Homo sapiens: one gene and its partners. The protein of the gene in region 1 interacts with the protein of each later gene in a biochemical or structural test. Each region holds a gene or a part of one and is shown on either strand. Other genes may lie near its edges.

Region 1 (3,477 bases):
AGGAGGGACGCATCAGGACATGAGCCACGAGGGCTCGGGCACCTGCGGCACCTCCTCCCAGCATGGAGGAGCCTGCGCCCCAAAGCCATCATCCTCCACTGGCAGGTGCAGCCTTTTCCCTCCCTGCTCCTTGTGGGCCTGGGATGGGAACAGGAAGGGGGTTTACGTCCTCTGGGCACCAGCCCTTTGGCCTCGCCACCACCCTCACACATCCCAGGCGGGGCTGAGGCTTCAGCTGGACTGTCATCATAGTATCTGCTCCCCAGGGCTCTACCCCTGGGGAGGGAGCACTTAGGGACAGAAAGGGCACAAGGAGATTCGGTCCAGTGCCTCCACTTCTCTCCACCCACACCCCACCCAAGCTCTGGGCCCGTCTCCGGCCCCTGCTGCCCTACCACAAAACCCCAACCCATCATATCCCCTCTCTCCAAACTCCACCCAACCCAGGCAGAGCCGGTCACTCCTCCCCCAAAGTCCCCAGTGCCCTCAACAGATGGCACCGTCACCCATCTTACTCCAAAGGGTTTATTGAGACAAGTTTTCACATACAAGATGGGGACAGAGGGGTTGGGGCTTATAAACAGGAACCTGGAAGGGGACCGAGGGTGCAGGGTAGAACCAAACAAGAGAGTGAAATAAATAGAGGGAAAGAGTGGAGACAGGGAGGAGACTGACTGAGACCATCACACAGTGATAATGCGGGTGGGGCGGCGCCATGAAAATCCCGTTATTTATACAGATATACAGGGAGTTCAGGGGGACCCGAGGCCCACTCCACCCTCCATGCCCCAGGGAGGGGCACAAGAAAGCCGTCTCTACCCATGGGCGACCCCATGGGGCGCTGGGAGGGCTGCCCTAGGAGTGTTGGGCAATCCCTGGCCTGGAAGCCTTGGTTAGTGTCTGGAAAGCAGTGGAGAGGGCCGGAGGGGAGGGGCAGCCAGGCCGGGGCTCAGCTCTGAGGCTCCCGGCTGCCACCCTTTCTCCCAGCACAGCTCCTGCCCAGGTCTGGGAGGATGGGGGATGGGGGAGCAGGAGCTCAAGGGGAGAACCTGGCACCTTCTGGAGTCTTGGAAAAACTGATCCCTAAAGACACCCGGCCCTGGCTGTGCTGCCCTCTGGAAAGCAGCTCTGATACCAGGAGCGGCTGTCAGGGCACAGGGGGAAACCCCGAGGCCATCCTCGGGGGTGATTCCTGAAAGGGGCCCATCCCCAGGCTGGATGCTTGGGGAAGGCAGCCGTTGGGGAGGGATTCCTGGGGAAAGGGCCGTTAGCACCACCAGGCTCCATGGCAAACAGACAGAGGCCAGGCCTCTGCACCTCCAGCGAGGCTGGGAGTCCCCTGCGGGAAAGAGAAGGGAGGGGAGACTGAGCCGCCGCCTCTAGGGCGCCTCTAAGGCCTCAACCCCTCCCCTGCATGCCCAGGGCTCCCCCAGTGATTCTCACAGGACGCCCCTGACTGGACTGCGGGGCTCAGCACACCTGGCAGTACTAGGCATGGGCGTGCAGAGACTCAGAATGCGGGGTTTCTGCCCTCACCTCAGCCCCACCTGCCCGGCCCTACACCCCAGCCAGCGTGGCGGCCAGGGCAGGGCCAGGTGGGCATCATACGAAGACCTTGGCCAGGGCATCAGCGCCAGCACTGGCAATGAGGGCCTTGCTGGGGTGGCAGGCAACAGCGTGGATGGCCTCCTCGTGCTTCTTGCGGTGGGCCGTGATCTCCTGCACGCACGTTTTGTTGTCCAGGCTCCAGAGACGCAGGGAGCAGTCATGGCCTGCACATGTGTCGGGGACAGAAGGGGTGGTCACTGGGCTCCTCGCTCAGACGCAGCCCTGGAACCCCTCACCTGGCCTTGTCCAAAGGCCTCAGGGGAAGTGGGGCTCAACTCTCCTCTCTCACCCTCTGCTCATCACCTCCTGTGGCCCGCCCAAAGGAGAACCCTGGTCCCCTCCTGTCCACAGTCCATCTCATCCCCCAGCATTTCTTGAGCAGCTACTGCACACTGAGCCCCAGGGCGGCAGGGGCAGTGAACAAAACAGGCAACTCTCCCTGCCCCGCAGCACTGACGCTGCAGCTGGGCAACAGGAAGAGAAAGAAGAAAGCAACCCAGCCGGTCAGTGTGAGGACAGAATGGCCCCAGGAGGAATGCAGGGAGCCTTCCAGGCAGAAGGACAGGCGGGAAAGGTCCTGAGGCAGGAGGTGGGGGTGGCCACAAGAGCCTTAGCAGGGACTTGGGGAGAAGAGGGGAGAGGACGGCAGGCTGGGCAGGGCCCTGGCGAGGAGAAGTTTAATTTAGGGTCAAGAGGATCAGGCAGGGCAAAGGCTCAGCTCCCTCCACTGTCTAGTGGCCCCCAGAATAGAGCCCTGTCTGGGCACTGGGCTGGAGCTCACTGACCAGCCCCTCACCCACCAGAGGCTGCCAGCACAGGCCCGGAGGCAGAGCCCAGCCACAGCCTCCAACACCACGGCCTGCGCCTCTGTGCACACACACTCACTGCTGCACTCACTGCAGGCCTCACCCTTCACCCCCACAGCGACCTCCAGTCTCCTTCTCCACCCACCCACGTCACACTCCATCCCTTCTAAGCACAGCCACGTTGCTGGCCTCAATGCCCTTATCCAGAGACAACAGGGTGGGAGCACAGAAGTCCCACGGGTACCCCCAGGTAGACCTGGACTGATGTTACAGAGCTTCAATGGCCAAGTTACAAAGCGTCTGGGCATCAGGGCCCACATCTGTAAACTGGGGATCAAAGTACCAACCGCACAGGCTGCTTAGAGGCCGAATGAGACGATGCAGCTCCAGTGACCCAGAGGAGGGCCCCAGCGGACTGTGCTGCCCCCTATGGTCACCACGGTCATTCCCGCCCAGACCAGCCTCCCCCAGCCCTGGCCCCCGGGGCCCCCTGAGCACTTGCCTGGAGCCAGTGCCCAGGCCTCTTCCTCCCCTTCTCCCCAACCCTGGTGGGACTAGTGTGCTCAACTTACTTCCTGACATCAGGAATGCGCCGTTGGGGTCCACGGCTAGGCAGGTGACTGCGTCCAGGTGTGCAACCATGGAGTGCACCGGCTTACCTGAGGCGAGAAGGGCGGGTGGCAGGTTCCCCTCCCACTCTGGGCCTCGCCTGAGAGAGTGAAAGGACTGGACGAGAGACTCCCAGAGCCTCCCACAGGGACGCAAGCATCTCTGCTGCCTGCCTCTGGCCCTCCCCACCCACTACGAGCACAAGGGGCTAGGCCTCACCTGTCCGATTGTCCAGGAAGCGGATGCCCCTGTCGTCGTGGGCGGTGATGGTGAGAGGCTGGTTTGGATGACTCACCACTTGGTTGATCTGGGTTGGACCTGAAGGAAAACGCAGGAAGAGGGAAGGATGTCAAGCAGAAAATCAGGAAGACCAGAACAGAGGCACAAGCGCAGCGTGACAGCCCCTACACCAGCCTCTGCCTGGATGTCGAGGGGGGCTGGGCGAGGGCACTCC
Region 2 (7,037 bases), 8.1 Mb from region 1:
TGCCTCAGCCTCCTGAGTAGCTGGGATTATAGGCACGTGCTACCACGCCTGGCTAATTTTTGTGTTTTTAGTAGAGACGAGGTTTTACCACGTTGGCCAGGCTGGTCTCAAACTCCTGACCTCAAATGATCCGCCCGCCTCCGCCTCCCAAAGTGCTGGGATTACAGGCGTGAGCCACCATGCCCGGCCTACCTAGCTTCTTTTGTATTTTTAGTAGAGACGGGGTTTCACCATGTTGGCCAGGCTGGTCTTGAACTCCTGACCTCAAATGATTCACCCGCCTCAGCCTCCCAAAGTGCTGGGATTACAGGTGTGAGCCACCACACCTGGCTGCCCTCTATGCATCTTTGATCACCAAATCCTGAGTGTAAGGACAAGCTCCGCCCCTGTTTCAGCCTGGCCACACCCCAACTCCATTAAGCTCCTCCCCGTCCCTGCCTTTGTGCCTTCCTTAGGCTTCTCCCCACCCCTACTTTTGCTCTCCCATTCCCTACAGGATCTCCTTGACCCTCCAGAATGCCCACCCTTGGTGGAGGGATGTGTCCAGGCGGCCGTGCTGTGGATCCGGAGGGGGCAGCCATTGAACAACTTTACGAGAAGGGCACATCCCTGGGCAGGTCGCCGCGGGGCCAGGCAGCAGATCCGGCAAAGAGAGCAGGGAACAGGAAGGGGCAGTGGTTACGACTTTGGAGCGAGAGTGCCAAGGTTCAAATCCTGCCTCTTACCTTGGTGCAATTTCCCATAATCTATCCCTGTAATACACTTTTTCATACATTGAGTTTTCTTTTCAGTTTGTTTTTGTTTTTTTTTGTTGTTGTTATATATTTCTTTTTTTAGTTTTTCCTCCACTATCCTAAATCATCAGCATTTGTTTTTTTTAAGACAGAGTCTCACTCGGTTGCCCAGGCTGGAATGCAATGACATGATCTCAGCTCACTACAACCTCTGCTTCCCAAGTTCAACTGATTCTCATGCCTAAGCCTTCTGAGTAGCTGGGACCAAAGGCGTGTGCCACCACACCCAGCTAATTTTTGTATTTTTAGTAGAGATGGAGTTTTGCCATGTTGCCCAGGCTGGTCTTGAACTCTTGGCCTCATGTGATTCACCTGCCTCAGCCTCCCAAAGTGCTGAGATTACAGGCGTGAGGCACCACTCCCAGCTGTCAGTTTTGTTTTTGGAGATGGAGTCTCACTCTGTTGCCCAGGCTGGAGTGCAGTGATGCAATCTCAGCTCACTGCAACCTCCACCTCCTGGGCTCAAGCAATTCTTCTGCCTCAGCCTCCTGAATAGCTGGGATTACTGGCACACAACACCACGCCTGGCTAATTTTTGTATTTTAGTAGAGACAGGGTTTCGCCATGTTGGCCAGGCTGGTCTCGAACTCCTGACCTCAGGTGATGCGTCTGCCTTGGTCTCCCAAAGTGCTGGGATTACAGGCATGAGCCACTGTGCCTGGCCAGCATATATATATATACACATATACATATATATATAGACACACACACACACACACACATATATATACACACACACATACATATATACACACATATACATATATACACACATATACATATATACATATATACACGTGTACATATATACGCATATACATATATACACATATACATATATATACACACATATACATATATACATATATATACACATGTACATATATACGCATATACATATATATACACATATACATATATATACACACCTATACATATATACATATATACACATGTACATATATACGCATATACATATATACACACATATACATGTATACATATATACACACATATACATGTATACATATATACACATGTACATATATACGCATATACATATATACACATATACATATATACACACATACATATATACATATATACACATGTACATATATACGCATATACATATATACACATATACATATATACACATGTACATATATACTTATATACACATGTACATATATACACACATGTACACATATACGCATATACATATATACACATACATATATACACACATATACACATGCACATATATACGCATATACATATATACATATACATATATACACACATATACATGTATACATATATACACATGTACATATATACGCATATACATATACACATATACATATATACACATGTACATATATACACATGTACATATATACACATGTACATATATACGCATATACATATATACACACATATACATGTATACATATATACACATGTACATATATACGCATATACATATATACACATACATATATACACATATACATATACACATATATATACACATGTACATATATACGCATATACATATATACACATACATATACACACACACATACATGTATACATATATACACATGTACATATATACGCATATACATATATACACATATACATATATACACACATATACATATATACACATGTACATATATATGCATATACATATATATACACGTATACATATATACACACATATACATGTATATGTGTGTGTATATATGTATATGTATATATGTATGATTAATTATGCTATGCATTTCATCTTTGAATCATTTCCAGTGCTGGAGGTATAAATTATACATACTTTTAGCCGGTAGCCAACCAGGCACGGCTGTAATCCCACCAGTTTGGGAGGCCGAGGTGGGAGGATCACTTAAGCCCAGGAGTTCAGGACCAGCTTGGGCAACATAGTGAGACCCTGCCTCTATAAAACATTTTTTTAAAAATTAGCCAAGCTGGGCCGGGCGCGGTGGCTCACGCCTGTAATGCCAGCACTTTGGGAGGCCGAGGCTGGCAGATAACTTGAGGTCAGGAGTTTGAGACCAGCCTGGCCAACATGGCAAAACTCCGTCTCTACTAAAAATACAAAAATTAGCTGGGCGTGGTGGTGGGCGCCTGTAGTCATGGCTACTTAGGAGGCTGAGGCAGGAGGATCACTTAGACTGGGGAGGCAGAGGTTGCAGTGAGCCAAGATAGCACCACTGCACTCCAGCCTGGGCGACAGAGTGAGACTCCATCTCAGAAAAAAAAAAAAAAAATTAGCCAAGCGCTACTAGGGAGGGTGAGGTGCATGGATTGCTTGAGTCTCCGAGGTCAAGGCTGCAGTGAGCCATGATCGCGCCACTGCACTCCAGCAGCCTGGGCGACAGAGCGAGATACTATCTCAAAAAAAAAAAAAAAAAAAAAAAAAGACTTTAGAGAGTTCTAATTCATTTTATGCATTTGTTGGCAAATTTGATGCCACAAAGGTGCATTATCACAACACTGACTACGTGTGTAGGCATTATGCATGTACGTAAAAACACTGAAACTTCCTGAATAAAGAGATGTTCTTTTTGTACATCTCCATTTATGAGAGGTAAAATTTCTTGAGATCTTGGCTCTTTGGGCAACTGCATATGTGGTAGTGACTCATGGAGGTTTTGATGGATCTTGTCAAAAGACTCTAACTTCTGGACTCAAGCAATCCTCCCACCTCAGCTTCCCAAGTAGCTGGGACCATAGGTGTGTGCCACCACGCCCAGCTAATTTTTTAAATTTTTAGTAGCTGGGCGCGGTGGCTCATGACTGTAATCCCAGCACTTTGGGAGGCCGAGGCGGGCAGATCACAAGGTCAGGAGATCGAGACCATCCTGGCTAACACGGTGAAACCCCGTCTCTACTAAAAATACAAAAAATTAGCCGGGCCTGGTGGCGGGCACCTGTAGTCCCAGCTACTCGGGAGGCTGAGGCAGGAGAATGGTGTGAACCTGGGAGGCGGAGCTTGCAGTGAGCCGAGATCGCGCCACTGCACTCCAGCCTGGGTGACACAGTGAGACTCTGTCTCAAAAAAAAAAAAGCATGCCAGACGCGGTGGCTCATGCCTGTAATCCCAGCACTTTGGGAGGCCGAGGCAGGTGGATCACCTGAGGTCAGGAGTTCAAGACGAGCCTAACCAACATGGTGAAACCCCACCTCTACTAAAAATACAAAATTAGCCGGGCATGGTGCTGCATTGCCTGTAATCTCAGCTACTCCGGAGGCTGAGGCAGGAGAATCACTTGAACTAGGGAGGCGGAGGTTGTAGTGAGCTAAGATCGCGCCACTGTACTCTAGCCTGGGCAACAAGCAAAACTCCGTCTTTAAAAAAAAAAAAAAAAAAGCAGAAACAACAATCCTGCCTCAGCCTGCCTCCTCAAAGGTATTTATATGACCTTGGGTAAGCCACTTACCCTCTCTGTGCTTCAATTTCCCCATTTGTGAAATGGGGGATAACATCTCTGTGATATCTTCTTCACTCTGTGAAGCTTTATGCCATGTAATGATAGGAGATAAGTGTAGGGCACAGAGAAGCGCTCAACAAATGTCACCTGTTGTTACTGTCAGTCCTGCCACCCCCTCCCCACCCCACCAGGCATCCCCAGCCCCGTCCAGAGGTGTAAGTCCTCAGCAGAGCTGAACCTCACCTTTCTCTTCATCTTTTCCTTCTTGGGGGGCAGAAGTGGGGGCTTGTCAAGCTCCCGGGAGGGTGGGTTCCAGAGTGAGGGTTCTGAGAGGGGTTAGGAGAAAATCAGCCCCCAAGAACCCCCAACCCTCCCGCCCTCCACCCTAGCCTGTCCCATTACCTGAATGGGCGGTGAGGTGGGGGCTGCTGGTGGATGGGGGAGGCCCAGGACGGGGGCTGTTTGGTGGGGGCCCACTGGCACACCGGACCAGCACCCCCGGGCTCAGCTGCCCATCATCCCCCATGCTCCCAGGACCCTCGTCTGATGGAGAACGGAACTTGGGCTTTGGAGACGGGAATGGAGCGTGGGGAAATACATCAGATGATCTCAGAGAGGGCACCCTTTTGCAACTCAAGTCCCTGCCTCCACCAGAACTAACAGCTGTGGCTCTGACCCACCCCCCCGACAACATCTTGTGCCCCCTCCAGCCTTCCCCTGACATCCCCAGCCTGGACATCAACACACTTCAGAAACTAATGGGTTAATGCTGGATATATAGCAGGGGCTTCCTAGGACCAGCTACTGACCAGTGTCTAAGAGGCTAAATATTTTGAATCCGACCCTGAGGTTGAGGGATGCCACTTCCAGATCCCAATGTAGCCATCATCCTGGTCTCCCCAATTCCCTGCCCTGGAGAGCCCAGTATCCCAGCATCTAAGGACCTGGCCTCCTGGCCCCCAGTGGCCCTGAGGCCCCAGCCTCCCAGCTCTGGCCCAGGGCCTTACCTTGGGGGGAAGTGGAGGAGGTGTGTCCTCTGCAGGGGTGGGGCTGAAACACAAAGATGGGTTAAATAGCTGGGGGGCTGGGGAACAAGGACTCGGGGAAGATGGCATGGTTCTGGGCTGGAGGCCCGGGACTGGGGTCTGAGGTGAGGAGGATTAAGGGATGACTGGTTCTGCCTGGAGCAGAGGATTAAAGGATTAATAGCCAGGCTGGACATAGTGGCTCATGCCTGTAATCGCAGTGCTTTGGGAGGCCAGGGCAGGATGGCTTGAGCCCAGGAATTCGAGACTAGCCTGGGCAGCATAGCAAGACCTTGTCTCCAGAAAAAAATTAAAAATTAGCCAGGCGTGGCAGGTGCGCCTGTGACCGCAGCTACTCAGGAGGCTGAGGTGGGAGGATTGCTTGAGCCTGGGAGGTTGAGGCTGCAGTAAGCCATCATTGCACTCCTGCACTTAGCCTTGGTGCCAAAACAAATCATGAGTTTGAGACCAGCCTGGACAACATGGCAAGACCCCATCCTACAAAAAAATGATTAGCCTGTTTCCAAAAAAAAGACTAATAACAGTAACAGCAACTCTTGGAGGTGGAGTGCTGACAGTGCACCACGGCTTTGCACCTTTACACCACCTAGTAACACAGGTGACATCAGCGCCGTGGCCCTGCTCTCCCTGTGCTGGCGCCACACACAGGCTGTCGCACGTGATGGGTGAAGTGAGTGCGCGCACCTGGATGGAGCCTGACTCGGCCTGTGGGCTGGGGAGTATGGGGGCCTGGGCTGACTGTTGGGTCTGGATCTGGGGCTCAGTATCTGGTCTTTGGGAGATTTCCAGGTGCCAAGGTTCAGCCTGAGGGCGGGCAAAAAGATAGGAAAAGCTGAGGGCTGGGGCTGAAGGCTGGAGGGTGGGTCTGGGGTGAGAGTGACATTCGGGAGGAGTTTGAGACTGGGATGTGGCTGAGGGTGCAGGGTCATGGAGGATAGGTGGGGTCAAGTCAGAGATTGGAGCAGCAGCACATTCTAGAAGGAACTGGGGTCAGCTCTGGGGTGGAGAGCAGGTGGGGGGCTGACGCTGAGGGTCAAGTCAAAAGATTGTATAAGAAGATGGAAGGAGGCCAAGTGCAGTGGCTCACACCTGTAATCGCAGCACTTTGGGAGGCTGAGATGGGCGGATCATGAGGTCAGGAGTTTGAAACCAGCCTGGCCAACATGGTGAAACCCCATCTCTACTAAAAATACAAAAAATTAGCTGGGCATGGTGGCAGGTGCCTGTAATCCCAGCTACTCAGGAGGCTGAGACAGGAGAATCGCTTGAACCCGGGGAGCCGAGGTTGTAGTGAGCTGAGACTACGTCACTGCACTCCAGCCTGGGCCACAGAGTGAGACTCCATCTCAAAAAAAAAAAAAAAAAAAAAGAAGAAGGTGGAAGGAAAGAAGGAAAGTGGGAGCTGGAGCTGGGATCAGGTTGGGGGTCAGGGGTTGGAGGTGAAGGGTTAAGGGAGGTGGGGTTAGGGAACAGGGCCTAGGTAGCTGGGCAGAGGGGCTGCATTGAGGGTCTAATCAGGGCTCAGGGCTCGGGGCTAGAAGAAAGGCAGGGGTGCAGCGGGGTCAGGAGTGGAGGAAAGGCCACATCAGGGGATTGTAGGAAGGTGGGGGCTGAGGTGGGGCCTGTGGAGCTGCAGGCAGGGCCTCACTTACATGTCCACGTCGTCATAGTCATCGTCAGACGACTCTGACAGTTGCTTCCTGAAGGGTGACAGGTATGAGCCTTGGGGGCCTTGTCCACAT
Region 3 (7,037 bases), on another chromosome or scaffold:
GACCTTTGGGGAACTGGGGTGGACAAAGGGATATACAAAAATTCAACCCATCATACTGTTTTTCTATAGGCGTTTATGTCTGTGGCTTTGGGGACAGCATTTCTATGTTGGCCACAGCCACAAAGGATGAATTCACAAATGCAGTATGGCTTAGCTACTAAAACCTCGGGGTTACTCTACAGGGAGGGTAAGGGAGAAGCAGTACTGCTGCAGAATACCCCTCTGAGGTCACTGATCATGCCAGACGGACACAGCCAATTTCACTGGAAAACAGTTCACCTATGACATTTCAGAAGAAACATGGCTGGAATGACACAAGACATGGCACTAGTTGAGTTTGTGATTGTGCATTCCTTAAGGAATGGGTGACATTTTTAAAAAGCTTATATTTCTAAACGTCAAATGTTTTGGATTTAAAGGTGAATATAAGGTGATTGGTTAGGTCTTGAAAGTGACTTTGTGAAAAGTCTAAAAGTGGAAGTATAAAGTTGACCCACTGTGAGATGATTAATGATGGGCCAACTGCTCTAAGTGCTTAGGAGAATTTGGGGTGTCTGCTGAGTCATCAAAAGGCCTTTAGGCCACAAAGGTTTCTAAGAGGTTTACAAGAAATTTCTAAATGTTTTTATGTAGTTTTTGACATGTGAATAATATATTGAGTGCTCACATGGATCAAACCAAATAATGCCATTTCAAGATAATATTGATTGTTTAACACAGATGTGATTCAAATCAGTATAAAGGAAAATGAAGGTTTCACAGGTACCTGGTGGTCTCTTAAAATGCAAACACTAATGCAAATGTTGAAACGGATTTACCTTATCATTTCTTTCACATAGAAACTTTAACCTTTGAGCTCGCTTATGCATAAATACTCCATCCAAATGTCCTGTTTCCACTGACCGGATCTCAATAGCTTTCTCGCCCCAGCCCATTATCTGATTGGAATGAATGTAGGCTGTCAAAAGGAATTTCCAAAACTGCATTAAAAACATTAGATGGGCAATAACTCACAGCATCTGTTCACATCTTAACCACAAAAATGACAAACGACTTGAGATAAATGGACAAAGCAAGTCTTACAAGAGTTATTCACAGATTTTTTTTTTTTTTTTTTTGTGGAATCAAATGGTTGTTTCACATTTCTTGATTTTCGTTTCATTTGGGGGGTGTAACTGCTGAAGGAGATAAGGAATGGTTAACCTACCCACAGACGTGGGCATTTCTCCCCATTGGAGCACCACATCCTTAGTTATCCGGCCATAGGTGTTTACATACACCCCCTCATCCTCATAGCAAACAAGCATTTCCATTCCATCTGTTTTAGGCAAGATGACAATAGCATGAGGAGTGATATTGCCCTGAATCTAGAAGACAAAGAAAAGCCAAGCATTATTCTTTTAAAAAATAAAACACCTTGACTATTCATCTCTAACAACTGCAAAAAAGAGGTTTTTGTTTATTTTCATTGTCACCCTAAAGACTGAAATTTGCTTTAATTTAACCACTGACTTGTAAAATACCCTGGTAAATCAAACTTAGTCACTAGATTAAAAATTCAATTTACCTGTTCCTAAAAAGAGCATGTAAATCTATGGCACACCTACTATGTGCCAGTCATGGGGCCCTTTACATATATAATTTCTAGTACCTACAATAGCTCCCCAAGGTAGATAGCTTTGTTTACAGATGAGGAAACTGCATCTCAGAAGGGCTTTGTGTCTTAACCAAAGTTGTGCTAGTATTTGTTGGTAGAGTTGGGATTTGTGTATATCTTGCTGACGTTGAAATTAATGTGTTTTCTATTAGCACAACCACTTCCAAAAGAAGATGAGGAGAATGTAAGCCAGCTGAATCTAATGGAGATAGCTTAAGTGGGGTCAAAATGAACTACCAAAATAATCTGTGAAAAAAAAATATATATATAGGATTGTTTATCCGGGTGTCTAAATGCCAGAATAATTCATGGCTTGGTTAGAAAAAATATTTAGAATGACCACTCATTAAAAAAAATCATTATTGCCGCACACAGTGGCTCATGCCTGTAATCCCAGCACTTTGGGAGGCCGAGGCGGGCGGATCACGACGTCAGGAGATCGAGACCATCCTGGCTAACACGATGAAACCCCGTCTCTACTAAAAATACAAAAAATTAGCCGGGCATGATGGTGGGCACCTGTAGTCCCAGCTACTCGGGAGGCTGAGGCAGGAGAATGGTGTGAACCCAGGAGAGGCGGAGCTTGCAGTGAGCCGAGATCACGCCACTGTACTCCAGCTTGGGTGACAGAGCGAGACTCCGTATCCAAAAAAAAAAAAAAAAAAATCACTATTGAAATAAGTGTATATTAATTTGTTCTAGGAAAGGAAATGTGATGTTGTTGTGATCCCCTAGTTGAGAATGCCATGGCAGCCCAACATGTGCTTGACAGATTGGACTAAGAGAGTTGAGGATTATCATAGTTACACCTTAGCTGCCTCACCAGGAATGTGAGCTGTGAGTCCTTGTGTTCACCCACATCCACATGAGTTAAAAGTGGTAATAATGCAGCAATGAATGGCAGTCGTGTGTGTGTATGTAATATACTGAAACAACTTCTTTTAGTTATTGCGTTTCATTAGAATAAAGTCTTAAAACTCTCAAAATACCAGTCAGCGGTAGCTTCAAACATTCCTGATAAATAGTTTCTCCTGTGTGTTAGTCTTGGGATTACACACAGGACACACACTTTACACTACACTTAATCCTAATAAGTGAATCCATGTGCAGCATTTCCCTTTAACAGTTATGTTTCAAGCAATATGTCAGGATAGTAATATGAATATTTTAGGGCTAATAAGAAGATCTACAATTTGCAGGGCCCTGTACCAACTGCTTTAGATCCATTACCTCATTTAATACTAATGATAATCCTATGGGATAAGTCTTTTTATCCATATTTTACAGATGCGAAAGCTGAGGATTGGAGAGGCTGCCTACTGTGTCCATTACTGCAAAGCTAATACATGCTAGAGCCACTGTGTCTGACTCCAGTGTACCACACTGCCCTCAAGCTGAAGAGAGGAACTAAAAATAGCAAAAAAAGAATTTTCTCCAATAAATTAGTACCTGACCATTGGCTTTCTCTAACATAAAATGAACGAATTTCCCTTCAAAAACTGAATGTGGAAACTTGTCTACCGAATATAATTCATGCCCTTGAAAGAAATATGTCATATTCATTTTAATCTAAAGTCCAAAGAGACAACATGTAAATGCCAAATGATTTCTATTATGTATTCCCCAATTTTAGGAAGTCATAAAAATTAGTTAAATTTATATATTTTAGTTATTAAAAGCAGTATACTTAATGAAGAACGAAAGTCCATTTGCTGGTTAGTAAAGTGTGCATGACTTCTACTAAAACTATGCAAAACAAATCTCTTTCTACATGCAGGCTGTTGTACAGAGAGCCCTTGAAAGTCTACTTCTGAGTACTTACATGAGATGGTATGTAGATATCATAAGAGTTTCCTGAATCAACATCAATTACATGGAAACCAGTGTGTGAACCAAAAATAACCTTTAATCTTTGACCTTCTTCTACCGTGAGATCAACTAGCAGAGGCTTGTGCTGGAGATCTGCAAAAGACTTTAAAAATCACCCCATTAGTATCCGCATCACTCAAAGAGGCATCTTAATTTTTTTCCTTTAGCCACTGTCTAGAGGAAGTTAACTTCTAACTTTATTAAAGTGAAAAACTAGAAAATTTCTCTTTCAGTTTTAGGTCTGTTGATATTCTGGCCCTAGGAGGAAGGGTCTAGCATCCATTTGTGCCCCTTTCTCTACCCTTTGTCCTTCGGGGCAGTGAAGTTTAAGTTGGTGCACAGGTGTAAATTTTGATAGTGGTAATGTATATTAAAAACCTGGTGCCTGGGTATTGCTGTTTTTTCCTGTTTATTTCTGGCCTTTGTCCTCTGAAGAAGGCCCAGTCACCTCTCTGGCCCCCCTCTTTCCCATGTGGCAACCAGGCCCATCCACAGCAACTACCCTTTCAGAGACAGCCTGGGAGGGACAGCCAAGGCCGGCTGTTTTCTCAGCCTGTTTAGTATTAATGGGCATGCTCTGGTTTGGATTTTTCTTCAGTGAATGAGTAGGCATAAGATTGGCACTTTCTCTTAATGTTGGAATCTGAGACTTGGGTTTGGGTGGTAGAGAAAGAGGTGGGAGTGGAACATCACAAGATTGATGGCTTGCATTGACTATTTGGGTTTAACTAGAAAGCAAAAAGAGAGATCTTGCCAAGTTTGTCAAAGTTCTCTGTGTTTGAATCCAGAGCCCAAGCCCCAACTAACTGTCAAGTGTTCCTCTGCCATTTTCCTTTGCTATTTTTTAACCACGCTCTACCTTTGGGCCTTGAGATCTGGGAGAGCATTTGTGAAACTACAATTGCCTTAACTATAATGCCACTGCTACCTCTCAGACCCTTCTCTTCTCATCTTTTGCTAACACCATTCTGACAGCATGGGAAGCTCTAGCGTCCTGTCCTTGTCCTATGGGAAGGCTTGGCCTCTTGCCAGTTCCACTCTTTCCTGTTCAAGTCTTTGCCTTTGCTCTTCCCTCTTTCTGGGCTGGATAGGGTCTGTCAGAAAGAACATTTTGCACTCTCTCATGTGTCTCTGGGTCATAAAATAATGGCAATAACTTCAGAGCAAGAATGGGAATGGGATGTTGATTGAAAAGCTTTTGTGGAGATAGATTTTGGCAGAACAGGAGTACCACTTTGGCTTTTAGGAGTTATCCCTTGTTATTAGTAACCTAATGCATTCCAATTTTTTTCCATAAAAGTGAGGTCATGGAGGGGAGCCCATTTCCATTAATGAATCTATTTTCTTGAGCACATCAGAAGCCATCTGCCCTAAGGGAACAAGATAGAAGTGATTCAGCTCTGAAGTGGGCCTACATGGTGTTCCAAGGGCAGTTTTGCCCTTCATGAGAATGTGGCAGAAAATAATAAGGAGCCAAATGGAGATAACAGTCATAAAGGTGGGGAGAAAAAGTGAGAGCCAATGAGACATAAAGAAGTAGACAGACATAAGCTGAGAGAGAGAGAGACAGAGAGAGATCAGAGAGAGAGAGTGAGAGAAAACAGAAGATAAGTTCACTTGGGCTATGGATAGGTTATGCGGCTCTGAACACATCTGGGTGCCTGTAAGTACTGGTCCTCCTGGTATTCGGGTGTCAGCTTCATGAGCTGGGGTCAACAGGACTAGCATATCCCCATCCCACTCCTGGCAAATCTCATGAGTGACCAATCCAACCATGGTGGGTACAGACTTAGACAAGGTAAAAAAATGAAAAGGCAATCAAAATAGAAGAATGCAGAGAAACTAGGTCATTTCTGTAAGTTAGCACTGGGGACATATAAGCATCACCTGAGTTTTAGGGACTTCATTCAGAAAGATTTATGAGGATTAAAAGAGACTCAGTTTAACTCTGAGATTCAGTGCTGCCATTTGTCTGCCTTTTTCAAACAAAATATCAGGGAATACCCTGGTTTAGGTGGCTTTATAACAAATGTCATTGCATAAGATCATAATCAATGCTATGCCTACTAACCATTCTAAATGCCTCTTGAGGATGATGATTCATAGATCTCAAGGAGGAGGGCATACCCAAATTTTAATCTAATTTTATAGCATTTACAAATATTCAGTCTTTACTTTTGAAACAATAAACCCTAGAGTACCTACACTTTTAAAACAGGTTTATTATCTATATGAAAATTGGTATTGGTCTATATGGACTATTTTATTAATGGGTAGAAACGGAAAATTTTTAAAAAGCACATTTTAGATAATCACATCCCTGCTTACCTTAAATGCCATGAATTTATGATACGGTTTAGGAGCCCAAGCATATATTTCCACAGCATTCTTTAAGGCAATCACCAAAAATTTGATCCTTTCATATTTAACTGTAATAGAAAAATTATGAGTGAAAAAGTACATCAATTTACTCAAGTTCTTTGTATTAATATTAATGAATGTATAAGCAACAATATGTAAATTTAAATATTGATGTTGGGTGTCAGCTTCATGAAGGTGATATTCCTGGTGTGGGATTTTTTCATAGATACTGATTTAGCTTCCCTTAGCGAACTTTGGTTGGCAGAATACTTATGGCTTTTGCTTTATATTGAAGACTTTTCATCATCCAGAGATATAACTGCTTAGGACTGTCTTTAACACTAGGTCTTGATGTTGATATTCATTGTAATAAGAATGTGCATAATTTCCTTCATGTTAGCTTGCCTGGCTTTTACGTTCACCCATATTTAAGTAGCTGAGAGCAGATATGGCAAGATGGTAGAAAAATTAGCAAATGGGCAGATATAAAGGCTGCCATTTGCTTATTATTTATATTTGAATTCCAATTACCAAGTGAAATAATTGCTTATTTATGCTTCTAACGAAAGGGGGGTGTTAGGAGTCTTGGGTTCTGTTAGTGGCTTAAAGGGCTACGAATACTGACAAATCCTTTTACTCTTTAGAAAGATGGAATATTAAGCATTGTAAATTCTATGGACAGAAGCTTAGTTAAATGATTGAGTCCCCACAATGCTTTTGCCTACACAAAGTAGTACTCAATAAATGCTTATTGAATGGAAAAATGGAAGAACAGACTGTTGTCTGGCATTCTCTTCATTACTCTTACCTACGTGTGTGTCTCTGATAGAATAATAAGCAATGTTTACGGTGATGACCTTGAGAAATTGAACAATCCTTTAAGTGCCTTCTGAATCTTTTGCTGTTAAGTGTGGATTCTAATTCTTAGAGAATTCGTAATCCACAGTTGGTACACATGGCAGTCAGTTTCTTGGTAAAATATCTCAAGAAACAGAATATTCTGAGTCCTAAAGAAACTAGGTAGGAAAAATTTTAATATACTTAAATGACATTAAGTTTCCAGTTACTTGCTTTATAACTTTTCATGACATAAAGTGTTTATTAGACTATTTTTGCTGATCTCTTCATCTGAAACCTAGGAAAAGATCCA

What was found. Proteins that work in one complex are often made in the same cells at the same time.
Region 2: the proteins of STRN4 (region 1) and MAP4K1 form a complex in vitro, tested with the Homo sapiens proteins (one study listed by BioGRID).
Region 3: the proteins of STRN4 (region 1) and TNIK form a complex in vitro, tested with the Homo sapiens proteins (one study listed by BioGRID).

What each region holds. Positions count from the first base shown.
Region 1 is NC_000019.10:46,719,000-46,722,476, forward strand, and holds the end of STRN4 (striatin-4), read right to left. Parts: intron 3,342-3,477; coding exon 3,243-3,341; intron 3,074-3,242; coding exon 2,987-3,073; intron 1,773-2,986; coding exon 1,603-1,772; 3' UTR 1,537-1,602; intron 1,340-1,536; 3' UTR 512-1,339; downstream 1-511. Other genes in the region: uncharacterized protein LOC107987269, read right to left, coding at 1-64. UniProt on the Homo sapiens protein: Calmodulin-binding scaffolding protein which is the center of the striatin-interacting phosphatase and kinase (STRIPAK) complexes.
Region 2 is NC_000019.10:38,600,917-38,607,953, forward strand, and holds part of MAP4K1 (mitogen-activated protein kinase kinase kinase kinase 1), read right to left. Parts: intron 6,996-7,037; coding exon 6,948-6,995; intron 6,100-6,947; coding exon of another isoform or gene 5,980-6,099; intron 5,300-5,979; coding exon 5,257-5,299; intron 4,815-5,256; coding exon 4,652-4,814; intron 4,576-4,651; coding exon 4,493-4,575; intron 779-4,492; exon of another isoform or gene 610-778; coding exon 525-609; exon of another isoform or gene 497-524; intron 1-496. UniProt on the Homo sapiens protein: Serine/threonine-protein kinase, which plays a role in the response to environmental stress. Appears to act upstream of the JUN N-terminal pathway.
Region 3 is NC_000003.12:171,065,369-171,072,405, forward strand, and holds part of TNIK (TRAF2 and NCK-interacting protein kinase), read right to left. Parts: intron 5,956-7,037; coding exon 5,855-5,955; intron 3,630-5,854; coding exon 3,480-3,629; intron 1,368-3,479; coding exon 1,208-1,367; intron 959-1,207; coding exon 819-958; intron 1-818. UniProt on the Homo sapiens protein: Serine/threonine kinase that acts as an essential activator of the Wnt signaling pathway. Recruited to promoters of Wnt target genes and required to activate their expression. May act by phosphorylating TCF4/TCF7L2.